2 separate regions of the Homo sapiens genome follow, and region 1 is linked to region 2. The links come from fine-mapping of genetic effects on gene expression. A gene starts in region 2. The other region holds a variant in brackets. All regions are shown on one strand. Distances are between the middles of the regions. Region 1 overlaps LOC105373262 (a long non-coding RNA gene). Region 2 holds the start of SPMIP3 (sperm microtubule inner protein 3).

Region 1 (2,944 bases), 40 kb after region 2:
TTGTACCACAGCACTTCAGCCTGGGTGACAAAGCAAGACTCTATCTCTAAAAAAATTGTAAAAAATAATTAAAAAGTTACAATCCCTTGTTCTTTTTTTGGGGCCTGAGATATTTTTCAAGCCCAGAATCCAATGACCGAAGAAGAGGCTGGGTCCTCACTAGGAAAAGCCCGGCAGCCTCAGGGCTGTAAGTAGTAATGTTTGCCCCAGGCTTTCCCCATTGATCCTTATGGTTATTTTCTCAGATAACGACATTGCTTATCCTCAGAGCCATGATACACCCCTGTTAGAATGGAGGCATGTGGGGTTCAGACAGTAAATGGAATTCTGGCCCATGTCTGGCTCACATTGATTCCACTGGGTCTACTGACCCGTCTGGTGGGCATTGCCCCAGAACCTGAATATGCAATTAATGTAGAATCAATCTACGTTGATTCCTTGGCCTTTGTGGTAAGAGCTATTGCAATTAAGAAGAAAAGGGGAGAGTCTTTGAAACTCCCCCATCAGCATCAATTATTGTCATTTAAAAAAATCATCCAGAATAATAGCCATACTGGCCAGTTTTTCCAGCACTGTCATAAGGAGGGAAGGGAGCCTGGGAGAGCCACACACCCAAAGTCCTTTCATAGCCCGCCAGGAAGGGGAGTGTTGCAACTTGGAAATAAGCAGTTGAGATACAGATAGGAAAACAAGCCTCCCGTAGTGCACCTACAGAGACCCTCTCCAAGCTTCAGGGCCCCGGGCCACCTGCCGCCAGGCCAAGCTGCTGTGCTGTAAGCTCCTGGACCACATTCTCTGGCTCATGATGTACATGCTATGTCATCGGTGTGGATTGTTGAACAACATAGAGTTAGATATTGAACACCACGGATTTTAAAACACAAGGGACTGGATTATGTAAGACATAAACAATAGGCTGGGCACGGTGACTCACGCCTGTAATCCCAGCACTTTGGGAGACTGAGGCGGGTGGATCAGTTGAGGTGAGGAGTTCGAGACCAGCCTAACCCAATATGGTGAAACCCCGTCTCTACTAAAAATACAAAAATAGCCGGGCGTGGTGGTGCACACCTGTAATCCCAGCTACTCGGGAGGCTGAGGCAGAAGAATCACTTGAACCTGGGAGGCGGAGCTTGCGGTGAGCTGAAATTGTGCCATTGCACTCCAGCCTGGGCAATAAGAACAAAACTCTGTCTCAAAAAAAAAAACAACAAAAAAACAACAAAAAAAACAACTATATCTATATGTCTATATATCTATATATCTATCTATATCTATATATATGTGTGTGTGT[GTGTATATA/A]TATATATATATATATATATATATATATATATATATATATAAATAGTTCAGAGAGAATTATGGCCCTGGAATAGATGAAGCCTTCAAATGCAGGCCGAAGGTTCTGAGGCATCCTCCAAGATGCTCTGGGGCCATCGTGCGAGCCAGGCTGGCAGGTTTGGAGACAGTCAGAGGAGAAAACCTCTTCCATGTCATCAGCTCCGAACTCCTAACGCCCCTGAGACCACCCTCCTTTACAGACATTGTCAAAGCCAATCACTGTATGAGAGGAGGAAGGAAAGGGAAAGGAAATTAGGGCATGCTAATAAAGGGACTGTGGGAGCTTGAGGAAAGATTACGGGTTAAAGGTAAATGTAAGAAAAAACAGGCCAGATGAAGTGGCTCATGCCTGTAATCCCAGCACTTTGGGAGGCTGAGGCAGGTGGACTGCTTGAGCCCAGGAGTTCGAGACCAGCTTGAACAACATGGTGAAAACCTGTTTCTACAAAAAATACCAACATTAGCCGGCTATGGTGACGTACGCCTCCAGTTCCAGTGATACAGAAGGGCTGGGCTCCTGGCTAAACCCCAGCCTTAAGCCTGGAACCGTGGCCCTAAGTGAAAACAGCTGATCCCATTTTTCTGCCCAAATGTGGCTTTTTGGGCCTCCCCCGCCCCTATCCTGTGCCCATAAAAGACTTCAGCTGGCAGAACAACACAAGTGGCTGAGTGTCGCGGATCCAAGCAGCTGAGTGTTGTGGATCCAAGCAGCTGAGCGGTGAGCAGAGAAGCAACTGAGCACCAGAGACTACAGATAGATGTGGCCAACTTCAGACAGCGTGGCTTCAGAGAGGGGCCCAGCCAAAGACGGCAGAGCTTCAGGAAAAGATCACCTTCGCATGCCCTTTCCAGCCTCCCTTTCTGCCCAGAGCCACCCACTGCTCAATAAAGTCTTCCGCATTCATCACCTTTCAAACACTTCATGTGACCTGATTCTTCCTGGACACCAGACAAGAACCCAGGTGCCAAGAGGGGAGGGGCTGCCACCCTGACCCTCCACTGAGCTGACTGGCACTTGGCTGTCCTCAGACGGCAGAGCTGAAAGGGCAATTGGTTGTAACATGCTTGGATGCTGCTGCGGGGCCTGCACAGAGCCTGCTCCTGCCGGAGAGGAGCGACCAGCTGGCTCCAGAGTTCATTCGCTCTAGTTCCTGCACTCACTCACTCACACGCCACCTCCCAGGAGCAGTGGCCAGTGGTGGGCTAAATCTAAAAAATAAAATAAATAACCTACTAAATCTGAAAGGTAATGAAAGATATAAGTTGAAATGCTTTAGATTTAAAGTGGAAGAAATAAAAGGTAAAAGCTTTTATTAGCTAAATTAAAAGCTTGAAAAATGAGGAGACAGATTTTAGATTGAGATTAGAAATATATGTAATAGGCAAAAAGGAATTGCATTTTACTTTATTTGATAGGAATAAAAAGGAAAGAAAGCTGAACGTGGTGGCTCATGCCTGTAATCCCAGCACCTTGTGAGGCTGAGGCAGGAGGATTGCTTGAGCCCACTAGTTTGAGATCCGCCTGGGCAATACAGTGAGCCCCTGTTTCTACAAAAAATTAAAAATTAGCCAGGTATGGTGGTGCACACCTGTAGTCCTAGCT
Region 2 (2,728 bases):
GAGAAGGCGTGGGTGGGGAAGTGCTTTGGGATTGACATGACTCACCCTGGCTAGGAGCATGGTGACTGTACTAGCTGCCTCTGAGCCTGTGCGATGAGAGGCTGTTTAGAAGAGGGCTCGCAGCAATGAGTTACTTTGATAGTCCCCTGTTGCTTCTGTTTTCTCAGGCAGGCAGTTTTCCCAGTTCAGGAAGGTTGGTTCCCTTCTCCCCTGACTCTCACCAGTTCTGTAATGAATTCTGCTGCCTGAATACTCTTTCTTTTTTCCTTCTCTAGCCTAAATTAAGCCCATTCTTCAGGGCTTTGTTCAGGTCCTACATACGTTCCCTAGGAGGCCTCTCTTCTGAGTTTCAAATGGCCCATTTCCCTCCTGTGAATTCCCAGAGCCCCTGGGAGATTCTCCTACGCATTTTGGTTCTGAGTCCTTTCCTTTTTGGTTTATTGGTTTCTGAATTGATTTATTCATTTTATTATTTAAGAAAAATTAGTGACAACTCTCCACCAGGCTTTGGATAAGGTTCTAGAAATTCTTCAAACAACGAGACATCTGGGTTTTTTGTTGTTGTTGTTGTTGTTTGTTTTCTTAAACAGAGACAGGACCTTGCTACGTTGCCCGGGCTGGTCTCAAACTCCTGGGCTCAAGTGATTCTCCCACCTCGGCCTCCCAGAGTGTTGGGATTATAGGTGTGAGCCGCCACGCTTGGCCAAGACATCTGTTTTATACAGCACTTTGTCTCTTCAGGTAAAATGTGAGCTCCTAGATGTTGGGGACCACTTCGTTTGGTGGCCACGATCTTCACTCTCTTTGTCCTTCTCCTAACTCATTCTCTTGCAAAGTGTTCGCTGTCCAAGGAGTGCTTGATGCATACTTCAGAATGAGTGAATAAATCAATCGATCAGCTAACTCAGTAACCTGTTAATCTAGTTCACAGTTTTTAAAACCTAGGTCTTCTTGTATCACAGAGAACCAATTATCTTATTTAATATAGGTGTACCCGTTTCTAAGAAAAAAAAGACACGTTGAGTTAAAACTATGACAAGAATTCAAAGTTGAGAGAGATGAGTATTCACTTTCCAAAAGACATTTTTGCTTTACCAAAAGGCTTGCCATGAAGTTTCTTTATGTTGTGAGTTCCTGTCTCTAAAATATTTGAAATGCAGTCAACCATTTAGTAATGCAACCTCTAAATGAGGCGAGAGAGAGGTACAGGCAGTAACAACCAACCGCTATTACCTGCTTGGGCTGCCGTGGGCAGAGACCTCCTTGTTCTTAAAAGTACTCTGAGGACAGTGATGGGTACAGCTGCCTCCTGCTGCTGGATCAACTGCAGAGTGGCAGGGCCTGATTCCTTTACATCATTCAAAGGGTATTGTGACGCACACTGGCTTGCAAGGTTTTGCCAGGCAATGCCTTTCAGGTCCTGGGCTTAGAAAAAGAGTGCTCCTTTGGTCTCTAGGGAGAGACCAGCTGCACATGAAAGAAGGGGCAAAAATTACTGTGAAAAGGAAAATCATGTAGGCAAATAACCAGGCTATCTAATCACTAGAGCTTGCTTTCCTGTAAAGATTGTCCCAAGGACAACGTAAGGTGAAAATCTGGGTGGTGCCACACTGAGGAGTCCTGCCCTTTGCAAGCTGGAATTGAGGAAGGATGGTTTGGCACGAGGGGCAGATGAGGCCAGCCCCGCCTTGTCCAAGGTTAGGTCAGGCTCCAACCTGCTCCTTTGCAGGTATCAAAGGATAATTTTAATTATTTAAAAATATGCTGCAAACCAATCCATGGAGTATCACAACAGCACCACTATATAGAAGCAAGCCATAACCTGAGAAGAAGAGAGTGGCAAAAATATTTATTCTGACCAACCTCTGTCAAAACCAAACCAAACCAAAACGAAACACTGGCATTTTTTTTTCTTTTTTTTTTTTTGTGATGGAGTCTCTGTTGCCCAGGCTGGAGTACAGTGCCACAATCTCGGCTCACTGCAAGCTCTGCCTCCCGGATTCAAGCGATTCCCCTGCCTCAGCCTCCTGAGTAGCTGGGACTACAGGCGCGTGCCACCACGCCCGGCTAAGTTTCTGTATATTAGTAGAGACGGGGTTTCACCACGGCCAGGATGGTCTCGATCTCCTGACCTCATGATCCTCCCGCCTCGGCCTCCCAAAGTGCTGGGATTACAGGCGTGAGCCACCACACCCAGCCAACACTGGCATTATCTACAGTAGGTTGTCCTGGAAACAGGGACACTTCTCACTTATATACAGTTTGCAGGTTAGAATGTAAAATATTTCCATAAGATTCCAGAAGGCACTCAGGAGAGACCAGGGGCCAGGCTGGGTTCCTGCTGGGAGCTTAACCTACATGGAACAGGCATAAAATAATGTAATGACAGAGTCTTGGTGACAGCATTTTGTTGAAAGCAGATAAGCTAGGGAAAACTTAAATAAATATATGAGGACAGAAGCAACAAACTGGAACCACACTAAGAGAAAGGATAAATTGGTTTGATTTGTTGAGTGAGCACCACACGTTTTTTTAGCTATTAGACACACACCATCTAGAATCTCCACCACCACCATGGAAGGAGATTCTCTTTTGAAAATGAAGTATTTCTATTTGAAATGAAGGCTAAGAGAAGAAGCTACGGAACTTGCCTAACAGTCACACAACGAGGCCGTAATGAATCTATGATTTGAATCCAGCTATTTGACGTCAAAGGCGTTTTAAGAGT

What was found. PIP is the estimated chance that this variant, and not a neighbour inherited with it, causes the effect.
Region 1: its variant is fine-mapped to the expression of SPMIP3 in monocytes after R848 (Quach 2016, PIP 0.95). The same link has a PIP of 0.9 or more in monocytes after Pam3CSK4.

The regions. Positions count from the first base shown.
Region 1 is chr1:244,311,378-244,314,321 of GRCh38, reverse strand. The region is part of intron 1 of LOC105373262 (a long non-coding RNA gene); the gene reads left to right. Among named protein-coding and RNA genes, the nearest start is that of SPMIP3, 40 kb to the left of the region's middle. The variant GTGTATATA/A (reference allele first, on the strand shown) is at 1,295.
Region 2 is chr1:244,351,240-244,353,967 of GRCh38, reverse strand. SPMIP3 (sperm microtubule inner protein 3) reads right to left here and starts at 1,333. Exons shown (of 5, transcript NM_001012970.3): 1 at 1,234-1,333.